2 linked regions of the Homo sapiens genome follow. The protein of the gene in region 2 interacts with the protein of the main gene of each other region in a pairwise test. Each region holds a gene or a part of one and is shown on either strand. Other genes may lie near its edges.

The links.
Region 1: the proteins of GAB2 (region 2) and ARHGAP32 interact in a two-hybrid assay, tested with the Homo sapiens proteins (one study listed by BioGRID).

What each region holds. Positions count from the first base shown.
Region 1 is NC_000011.10:128,979,254-128,986,552, forward strand, and holds part of ARHGAP32 (rho GTPase-activating protein 32), read right to left. Parts: coding exon 7,271-7,299; intron 6,833-7,270; coding exon 6,750-6,832; intron 2,684-6,749; coding exon 2,576-2,683; intron 2,309-2,575; coding exon 2,163-2,308; intron 1,496-2,162; coding exon 1,300-1,495; intron 603-1,299; coding exon of another isoform or gene 596-602; exon of another isoform or gene 1-595. UniProt on the Homo sapiens protein: GTPase-activating protein (GAP) promoting GTP hydrolysis on RHOA, CDC42 and RAC1 small GTPases. May be involved in the differentiation of neuronal cells during the formation of neurite extensions.
Region 2 is NC_000011.10:78,214,738-78,219,064, forward strand, and holds the end of GAB2 (GRB2-associated-binding protein 2), read right to left. Parts: 3' UTR 556-4,327; downstream 1-555. UniProt on the Homo sapiens protein: Adapter protein which acts downstream of several membrane receptors including cytokine, antigen, hormone, cell matrix and growth factor receptors to regulate multiple signaling pathways.

The sequences.
Region 1 (7,299 bases), about 51 Mb from region 2:
TTAAAGAAAATGATTTTAGGTGTGAGTAGAGAATAAAGGCAAACAAAGAAGACAAGGATTAAGAATAATAACAAACATATACTGAATGCCAGGCACTGTGCTACCTGCCTTATATGTAATATCTCCTTTAAATCAGATACAACCACATGAGGTAAGTACTATTATTCTCATTTTGCAGCCAAGGAAATTATGACACTAAGAAGTTCAAATAACTTCTTTAACATTATAAAACTATTAAATGATGGAGTCAGAATTGGAACCCAGGCCAATCTACATCCCAGTATCTACTCTCTTAACTACTACTCCATAAATAAATCTTTGAGTAAATTATGGAACTAGAATATAAAATCAAGATGCTAAAGACAAACTCAGGATGACAAAGTAAGAGTATGTTCCAACTTTTTGCTGATAGAATGTTTTTAGTCACAGGAAGTGAAAGGAAGTTAGAGGAGTATACTAAAATACGGGAAGAACAAATTCTAAAGTTATATTAGTACTACCCAATCCAGAGAATCAAAATCCTTACATTCATGTGTAATAGCCAAAGGAGTAGCAGAGACATCAAAAATAACTTTTACATACATTAGTCTTCCTACTATAACCTAGTAAAGAAGATACAGAAACCATGTTATTATCATTTCTTTAGAGTAATAGAATTTCAGAGCTGGAAGGGACATTGAAAGAGTGAACTGCTGCAGTGGTTCTCAAGTCCTAGCAGACATCAGAATCACCTGGAAAGTTAGATGAATGACCAGTTGCTGGGTCCCACGCCCAGGGTTTCTGATTCAGCGGGTCTGGGGTGTGACTGGACGACTGCACAATGTGCACTTCTAGCAATTATCACCAGGTGATGCTGATGCTGTTGGCTGGGAGACCACACTATTAATCTCTTCTAACCTTAATGTGAAACCAATGTCAAACAAGTCACTGTCCATTCCTGACTTTCTGAACAAACTCTTCCAACACAGCTTATTTCTAAACAACTTTATAAACAACATAGTTCAGAGAGCAAAATCAACCCATATAGTGACAGTATATCCTTATTTTTCCAAACAATTTTCCCTATACCACTGATGTTCTTCTTTTATAAAATTACATGACATTGTAAAGCAAGAATCATTTGCATCATTCCCCATGAAGCGGTAAGTATCATCCATATTCGAATAAACAGGTTTCTCTGGGACTAGCCTAGAATTCAATAGAGTAATACTAAAATACAAAATTAAAAGCAAACTAAAAGAAAATAATAGGACATAGCTATGAAAATCATATCCCAAAATAGGATTTAACAAATTTTACCTTTCAAGTGGGAACTCAATTATGGTATGAAATTTCCCCTGAAGTGCAGCAGGTCCTTCTCCTACTTCGATATATTTATTTTCCGTCACAATTGGAGAATTGACCTGAGCTTGTGTTCGTGCCTGGGCCTCTTCCAATGTCAGCAGTTTGGTGGATGGAGAGGATACCAGGAGGGACTTGGGCCTTGATAGAGAAGCTTCAAAAAGAAAAGGAAGCTGATGAAGAGAGTCAACTACGTGAGTGTATTCAATTTGTTAGTATCTATCTCTCCATCTATCTACCTATCTGTTGTTTCAAATTTTCTTCAAGTATGTTAAATAGCAAAAACCATAGTGCTTTATATTAAATGAAAAACTGAAGGGGACATACCAGTGGCACACATACATACATATAAAACCCTTTAATAACTGTTTTCCTTTCTTAAAAGATATGAGAAAAGCTTTATATTAAATAAAAAACTGAAGGGGATACACCAGTGGCACACATACACACATATAAAACTCTTTAATAACTGTTTTCCTTTCTTAAAAGATATGAGGAAAGGTGATCAATCACTCAGATATTTTTAGTTTTGGAAGCAATTTTTCTTCTTCTGTTCCACTTTATACTTTAATACACATCAATAATGAACGACAAGTTTTTTAATGTGTCATGAACTTAGATCACAATAGGTCTCATATGTAGTATTCACTATATACACACAAAATAACTGTCAAATTGTGCATTTTGGTAAGCAGCCATACATTATTAGCTGCCTTATACCAGTGACACGTTTTTGTTGTTGCAATAAGAAATGCATGGTTTGCTACTCCTCTGGAAGCTGAGACACACCCTCCTGGTAGGAAGGGCCATCGGAGCCGTACCTGCCCCCTCTTGCATGGCCATGCTGATTCTGCCGCTGAACAGCACATCAACGTGATTCAGGATGAACTCAACAACCACAGACTGAATCCTCACTTCCATGAAAGCTGCTGTTCCACTGAAGCAGGCAGATTCTATCTGTTTTGATCTGTGAGGTAAACATTTTCATCACAGAGTTGTAAAGATAGCAGTCGTCAAGGGCCTCTTTTTTTAAACGTGTAAATCTCAGACAAACAGAGGAAGAAATCATACTTTTACTGTCCCTTAGCTAAGGCCCAGTTGCCTGTTTTAGGGAGATGCAAATAAAAAGAACAGATTTGTTTAATCTTTTAAAAGTTTCCTTAAAGAACACTGATGAATCAGCCTTTTATTTAGGATTAGTTCTACTAAAATTAATAAGTGAAATGCAAATTACCTTAACAGGTTTGGAGCCCAAACAATTGCTAGATTTTTTGCATGCATATTTGTGATGGAACAATAGTCAGCTAGAAGAGACAAGTGTCTCATCAGGAACTCCAGTGTTCTGGAAATAAAATACAACATATTAACAGAAAGAAACATGATGCAGCAGTATAGAACATAAAAGCCTGCTAATTAATTCCTAAGTTTGCAATAGCAAAATGAAGAAAGGGACCATACAAACCCAAGAGAACTTTTTTTTCCTGCTTAACAGGTTGAAATATTACTATTAGAAGTGAATCTTCCACCAAAGCTAGTTTCTGGAACAAATAATATTTTGAAGTTATGCCATTCTACTTGCAGCAGACATACTAACAGGAAAGGATTTCAACACTTCTATGAAAGAAAACAGTAATGTCTCAAAAGCCTTAAAACAGTTACAAGAAAAATTCCAATAGGCATCAAGGGGAGAATATTTGAGCAAAGGATATGCTTTTGAAATAAAGAGCCTAATTCAAATCCTCATATTCTGGTTTATCTTGACTACTTAAAATTTGCTTTACTTAAACAATTCCACATATATTGTGATTAAACAATAGGGAAGAGTACTTTTGAAAACAAGACATGATCACCTTAAATGTAAGTTAAACCAGGTAAGTGCCGTGTGTGTGTGTGTGTGTGTGTGTGTGTGTGTGTCTGTGCGCATGCACACACAGAGGTATTATCTATCACCTAGCATGTCTCAAAGCGTCCTACCTAATAGTGCCCAGAGTAAAACTACTAAAGACAACGGGCTGGGTGTGATGGCTATTGCCTGTAATCTCAGCAGTCTGGGAGGCTGAGGCAGGCAGATCACTTGAACTCGAGAGTTCAAGACCAGCCTGGGCAACACAGTGAAACCCCATCTCTACAAAAAGTGTAAAAACAATTAGCTGGGTGTGGTGGTGCATGCCTGTAGTGCCAGCTACTCGGGAGGCTGAGGCAGGAGGATTGCTTCAGCCCAGGAAGGTTGAGGCTGCAGTGAGCTGTGATCATGCCACTGCACTCCAGCCTGGGTGACAGAGTGAGACCTTGTCTTTAAAAAAAAAAAAAAAAAAAAAAAAAAGGACAATGAATGGGAGACAGAAATATAAGGCTGTATTATATGAAACAGTAATGAAAGATAAAATGTGGTCTACATCCGAGCCACAAAGATTCAGATGGGCCTAACATGAATTTGAGAGGAAAAGGAATATCATAGTTAGACTCGGCATTAGGCATTGTTCAAGAGGCTTTTACCAGCAGTCTCATTTAATTCTCATAATAGCTCTAACAAGCACAGAATTACCATTCCCCTTGTACCGAGGACAAAGTCAAGGTTGCTGGGGTTCCACAGACTAGCAGTGGCAGTGCTGCATTTCAAATCAAGGTCAGAGTGGCTCCAAAGTGCCTGCGCGTTCAAGGGCATTGTAGTTGCTTTACAGTTAAAATGGTAATTCTCTGTCTCTGCTGTATATAATTAAGAGAAGACAAACCGAAGTGAGGCTGGCCTGGGTATGACATAGAGGTGAGAAGCTTGAGAAACGTATTTAGATCGCAAGGACAAAAAACCAAACACCGCATGTTCTCACTCATAGGTGGGAATTGAACAATGAGATCACATGGACACAAGAAGGGGAACATCACACACCGGGGCCTGTTGTGGGGTGGGGGGAAGGGGGAGGGATAGCATTAGGAGATATACCTAATGTAAATGACGAGTTAATGGGTGCAGCACACCAACATGGCACATGTATACATATGTAACAAACCTGCATATTGTGCACATGTACCCTAAAACTTAAAGTATAATAAAAAAATAAATAAATAAAATAGAATAAAGCCAGGCTCCTCAGCCAAAAAAAAAAGAAAACCATGTAAAATTTTATTACTTGAGGAAGGTGAATGAAGGGAATGATTAAAGGACTTCAGGAATGTATTTTATGAGAATTGCAAATTTAAAAAACCAAAGACATCTATTTGGTTTGCCTATCTGATTATAAGGATGTCTTTAAAAGTTAATGTAGAATTTTAGTCAGGATTCCACAAAATGAGCACTTTTATATTCAGCAGATGAGAGTGTGAATTGTATAAAACTTCGCAACCTGGAACGTAATTTGGATATTATTGTCTAATATTGAGAATAATAATTTAGATTTCCAGAATTTCACTGCCAGGTCATTATCCTGTAATAAAAAACATAATCTAGATACCATGTAAAAGGATGGCCCTCATAGTAATATTCAAAATTGGAAAAGGAAGGCCGGGCACAGTGGCTCACACCTGTAATCCCAGCACTTTGGGATGCTGAGGTGGGTGGATCACCTGAGCTCAGGAGTTTGAGACCAGCCTAGGCAACATGGCAAAACCCCAACTCTACCAAAAATACAAAAAATTAGCTGGGCATGGTGGTGTGTGCCAGTGGTCTCAGCTACTTGGGGGGCTGAGGTGGGAGAATCACTTGAGCCTGGGAGGCAGAGGCTGCAGGGAGCCAAGATTGTGCCACTGCACTCCAGCCTGGGTAACAGAGTGAGACCCTGCCTCAAAAAAAAAAAGGAAATAGAAAACACCCCATACCACCATATATGTAGATTAAATATGCAAATTATGAAAGGTTAAATAACATGGCATATCCAAATGAGAGAACATGATGGAAAATTACGCTTTTCAAGAACATCTAAGGAATTCAGAAATGTTAATGTTAAAATTTTGGATAAAAAGTCTATATCAAAAGATATACAAAGTAGGAGATACACACACATATAAGTTATAGTGAAGAAAAGAGTTACACAAGATATTGTATACATTATAAAGCAGGAGATATACATGTACATATTAATAGCAGGCAAGGTATGAAATCCAGGTAGGGCATACATGGTAAGTAATATAATATATATTAGAAGACAGGCAAAGTGGATAATATTAGGATATATATACATATAAGTATCTATAGTCAAGCTATAAAATAGTGTGCAGAAGATATAAAACATATATGCAGTGTATATTATTGAACATCTATCTGCAAGACTCTATTCTGGAAATACAGTGATAAACAAGACAGAATTCATGACCTCAAGTACCTTATGTTTTAGAAAGATTGTATACAGATAGTCTCCAACTTACAATGGTTCAATTTATGATTTTTTGACGTTTATGATGGTGCAAAGGTGATAAACATTAAACAGAAACCACAATTAGAATTTTTTTTTAAATGGAGTCTCGCTTTGTTGTCCAGCTGGGGTGCAGTGGCATGATCTCGGCTCACTGCAACCTCCACCTCCCAAGTTCAAGTGATTCTCCTGCCTCAGCCCCCGAGTAGCTGGGATTATAGGCGCGTGCTACCATGCCCGGCTAATTTTGTAGTTTTAGTAGAGACGGGGTTTTGCCATGTTGGCCAGGCTGGTCTCAAACTCCTCACCTCAGGTGATCCACCCACCTCGGCCTCCCAAAGTGCTGGGATTACAGGTGTAAGCCATGGCGCCTGGCCTATAGTGCTGATTTTTGAAATATATACATAAGCAATGTCATTTTGAAAAAAAAAATTAAATTACTTAATTTGCATATTACTAGAACATCCGCTGAGTTTAATTTCTTGTCAGTAATTGGAATTTTAAAATGTATCTTTTGTTTCTTTGCATACTGGAATCTAGTTTCTACTGTTGTCTTTTTCTAACTGGCAAAGTAACTTTCAATTTTATTCTGGCTTTCTCAGACATAACCATAAATATTTCCAACACTCCAAACTAACACACAAATCAAATTAGGTTTTAAAATGTAGCAACAACAATAAAACCAAAGAAGAAACTAAAACAAACAAACAAAAAACCCCCAAGTTTAGTCAGCCATCCCTTTGTCCATCCATTCATTCATTCAACCTTTAAGTACCTATGGAATGCTAAACAGTGTGCCAGGCCCTGGGGATCTAAGGACAAATGAATATCTATACATAAACATATACATATACATATAGGTACACATACATATAGTGTGTGTGTGTGTGCGTGTGTGTGTGTGTGTGTGTGTGTGTGTATATATATATATATATATATATATATGAAATGGAAGTTTAATTAGAACTCCAAGGAAGTTTAAATAGAAATCCAAAGGAAAAAAAAACGTTTACAGGTCAACCGACTTCTACCTCTGCCTGGTATTTACCCACTGTGGCTGACCTGTAGTGTGGTGGGGGGAGCTGCTGGATGACATCGTGGATTTTTATCAGCCTTTCTTCATCTGTTGCTGCTGAAACTGCATCCTAGAAGAGTCACAGTACAAAATAAACTAGTGAGCTCTGTTAGTAAAAATGAAAGTTCACTTACAATTCAGTTTTCACTCTGAGATCAACTTGCTTTGCTCTTGGATGTGAAATGGCGAGGAAACACAACATTGTATTCAGGAAGTAAACTGTTTCCACACAGTGTGAACACTGAGATCTACGAAACTAATTTTAAAAAGGCTTGATGGTCATCAGTATTAAGTGTGACAAGACTAGCAGCTCAAAGTCAGAAAGCACAAGAATGACAATGTGAAAACAGCAAAGACCACCGACTAGCTGGCAATATTTGTTTTTTTAAGGAGTCATTTCAGTCACAGAACTATTTCTTACATGTGACCAAACCAAAGTTCATGTGTTTTGAACAAAAGCACAGCAAAGTTCCACAAAGAATTAGATTCAAAAGTAGCCTGTACTCACAGAAAATTTCTCATACAGCTGGTAGGTAA
Region 2 (4,327 bases):
TGTGATGGCCACTGGGTTTTGCTCACGGGGTCTGGGGAGGCCAGGACTCAGCCTGCCCCCCAGTGACGTGTGAGATGCCACAGGGAGCCAAGAGCCCTCTACTGAATCTACTGAAGTGGGGTGTAAGTAAACGTGTGGACTGACTGACTTACTTACCTTACTGAGGGCTGGGTGATGCTGCCCGTGGAGAGGATGCACCTGGGAGGCAGCTCTCAAGCCTTTACCTACCTCCTTCCCCAGGGGCTGCCTGCTGTGATGGTGGTGTGGAGTTTGGGCCCAATGTCACAGACCCTCAAGATGTCACATCTAAGTGACCTGTGAAAGCAGCAGACAGACACGCCCAGAACCCATCTCTAGACGCCTAAGAAAGCTGGATGGGTAAATGCTAGTATGATTTCCACTTTACAACAGACGCTGAGGTAGAGAGCATTTGTTCTTATTCACAGCCAAGAAAAATACCCAATTATTTCCAAATAAAGCAAAAATTGGAACAGACTGGAGTGAGAACGGGTTCCACCACCAAGCCCCTCAAGACAAGATGGACACGGCAGCTGGTTCTGGGGTGCATTTCTAGTGGACTTTATTGTCCTGCTCCAACACCACAGTAGAAAGGGACCTGCAAGCTCCAAGCCTGTACCATGTGTCACCACAGCAAAAACATGACCCACTTGAACACACTCCTGTCCCACCCACCGGATAAATATGTTACAATTTAAAAAAAAGAATACAACAGAATAAATTAATAACTTAAGTGATTAGGCACCAACAGTGATTTGAAAATTAAATGTCAATTTTAAATGGTAACAAGACAAGAACTCAAGACTGGGCTTCCACTAGCCCATTTTCTCTTCCTGACAAACAGTGACAATTCTGCGTGAAATAATTCTAGATTTCAAGACACAAGTAGCCAACAAATACACAACACATGCCACCATAAATCACATGACAGCCTGGATCTCTTGGGGACCCCCTCGGCAGGTACCCCATTGTGGTCCCAGGTCCTAAACAGCAGGGCTAGTCCCAGAAAGACGACCCCCCACGGAAGGGCTTTAGCGCTCCTGAGACCAGTCTGGCTTCCCCTGCATTTTATGAAGGCCCAGATGGGGAAGGAAGAACTCTGGAAATGGGATAGGGGTGCTGGGCCGAGATGTCCCCATGGGAGAAGGGGCCAGAGGGAGGATGAGCTGAGCCCATGCTCCAGTAACTTCAGAATGGTTGTGCTTTTGTCACAGGAATGGGGCATACTTTGTTAACTTCTACATTGGAAACCACTAAAGTCAAGCTAGGAGGGGACTGGGGATAGGTACTGCCCACCCCAATCCCCCAGAAAGAAGTTACAGAGGAGGGAGTCTCCCCTTCAAGCAGCTGAGCACCAGCTGTGGATGGGACCTCAGCGCAGCTAATCCAACCTCCCATTCCACAGACAGGCAGATCAAGGACTTAAGGAGACACCATCTCCCTATTTCTCATCGTTCTCACTTGACTTAACCTTGCAGAAGTGGAGCTGGAAGTGGGTGAAGAAGGCTCCTTGGAGAGCCCCAGGCAGGGGGCCTGTGTGAAGCAGTGCTGAGTGGGAAGGTATCCCCTTTCCGTAGGCTCAGTCCTCTCCAGGCCCCCAGGAGAGGTGGACTTTGACCCATGGATAGGCCAAAGGACCAGTTTTTTCAACTGAGTTGACTCCTTTGTTGGAGGAGGTAGTGGGTGGAGGGTGGGGATATGCTAGATACGGCTGGTAGTTTGGGGCCTGTGAGCCAGAGCTTTGCTTTCAAAAGGTCAATTTCACCTCTCATCCTTCCATCTCTACCCCTACACTTGCACCCGAGGGATTTTGGTAGTTACCAGAATAGGGGGCTGGAAGGAAGCCTCCTGGTAGTTACCAGAATAGGGGGCTGGAAGGAAGCCTCCTGGGAGATTCGATTTGAACACCTCAGTCGCTCTCCGAAGATTCCAGCCAGGTCCACTCACATCATGGCACACTCAGAACATGCTCACATGTTTATGGGAGGCTGCAATAGTCTGGGCCCACTTGTGGCTGCTGCGGGTACAGGGAAGGCACCAGTTAAAAGCTCTGTCGTATGGGGCCCCTTGTAGGGGGCCTTTAAGGCACACATTCAGGGCTGGGCAGAGTGAACCAGCACCCTGCCAACTCTGCCCAGTGTAGCTACCACCACTGCTTCCATTCACTTATTGGAACACCAAGGCATGGCCCCTACACTTCTGAGTGGCTGGACCCATATGCTCAAAGGCCTTTTGTTCCCAAGACACAAGGCTTTCCAAGCCTCTCCTTCCTTCTTCCTCCACTGGACCCAAGCCCTGCCCTCCTCCTCTGTAAAAATCTGACTCATCCCCTTCTAAGGCCTACCTCAGGCACTCCCTTTTCCTAGAATCCACCTTCCCTGATCCCCCACTCCTGCCTCTGACACCAACCTCCCTAAGTACTTCCTCTGCCCTCCATCAGCATTTGAAGTCTCTGTCTGATGGCCATCACCACTGTCTCATGTCCTTGTCCTTTTTCTGATTGTGGCTATCTTAAGTTCAGGGAGAAGGTCTGATTGATTCTTGTGTCCTTAGTGCTTAACCCCAGAAACTGGAGACAGCAGCCATTAATAAATACTCCTTGAGTTGATCTAAACTAATGCTAGGAGGAGAGGTGCAGCTCTTGAAGAAATAACTTCTTCCAGGATGGGACTTAGAGAATGGCTAGGCCATTGGTCTGGTGAACTATGCATGCTCATGGGAGCTGAAAGGGGAATGGGGGCAGAGGACAGTGGTAGCTGTCCCCATCAAACATGGCAGGAAGTCATTGTTTGGGAGGAAGAAGTTCTGTTCGCCCCAGGGTAGAATGAAACGTCTGGTCTGTCCTGTTGCTTCTGAAACTCTTGAAAATTTAGTCAAGAACAGTCAACATAAAAACATTCAGATCCCCCACCCTTAGTTTAAGAGAAGGAACCTTGGGTGATGCCCTACACCCCGTCCCTGCTAATCTGATGGCCTTTCAAACCTGGGGAGGAGAGTCCAAGATGGCTCCTGGAATGCTAGGGAGCAACAGAGGGCGGATGAGCTGAGGAAACACTGGGCCGGCACCAGGCCAGACTCGTTCCTACCCTGCGATCTGACATACGCCACAGCCCATGGGCACAAGCTGTCAGCCATGCCTGATGTGGTCCTCTAGGCATCATTCTGCCCTGCTTTCTCCTTGTCCTGCCTGACCCACTGTCCCATCCTAGGAACGGTCCTCATGTCACACCACCATGCACACCACTCTTGCACGTGTCCCTCCTTCACTTTCTGCTCCACCCTGCACCCCCAAGGATTGCGTTGGGCACCCCCCAACTCCCAGGCCCTTTGGATGTATTTCCCCACTTGCTACATGGCCTTCACCACTGCTTCACATCTGTCTGCTACCTCTGTGCCCGACTTCCACTGCACTGCTCACTGCAAAGAAACTCACTTCCCGACCCCACTGCAGAGTCCCCTGCACTGCCCTGTGCCTCTGCCCAGCCTGTGCCTGTCCCAGGGTTCCCCTCAGTCCCTGCATCACCCCCATCCACACCACACTCCCTCCCATATTCCCCACCCCTTTACCATGTGTTCCTGCCCCATGTGCTTGGTCGCCCAGCTTGGTCCAAGCCTTCCCCTGTATGCTGCTTTCAAGGTGGGGCTGGCGGGGGCCTCTGAGGGGACTGGGGAAGAGGACTAGCCCTTGGGCCTAGAGTGGCCTGTAGCTCCAGAGTTCTGGGGACCCAGACCCCACAGTGTCCTTGTCATCTCCACCACCCGAGCTCCAAGCCCTGCTCCTTGCTGCTCTAGGTTGGCCATCAGTTTTCCCTTCCTTTTGTCCTTCATCTTCTGCCTCTGCACCCCACAGCAGCTGTCCTGCCATGGCCTCAGCCTCAAAGTGGGTTCCCTGCAGATGTCAGCTTTCCCTCTTCATCTGGGCATCTAAGTCCTTTACCCCTCAAGACCACTGCTGAGCCTCCGTCTCCACCATCTCCTCTTTTAGTGGCCTTGCTTCTCTCCTGCCAAGAAAAACAGGAATGAAAAAGTCCATTATCCACTTTGGTTTGCTGGTCCTTGACTCCCTGGGTTGGTGAGACTTGTCTTCTGGGACTGAAGGAGAGGTAGCCCAGTGGCCGGAGGGAAGATAGCTGAGGGCTGTGACTGAACGTGAGGTGTGGAATCTGGCTCAGAGCCCCAGCCCTTCCCTCCAAACATCTGGTAGAGAGTCAGGTCTAAAGGACAGGAAGAGGCTGAAGGATGCTTTTTGGAAGTAGCTCCTAACTAAGGTGGGTGGAGGCATGGCCATTACTGATAAAAATCACAGCTG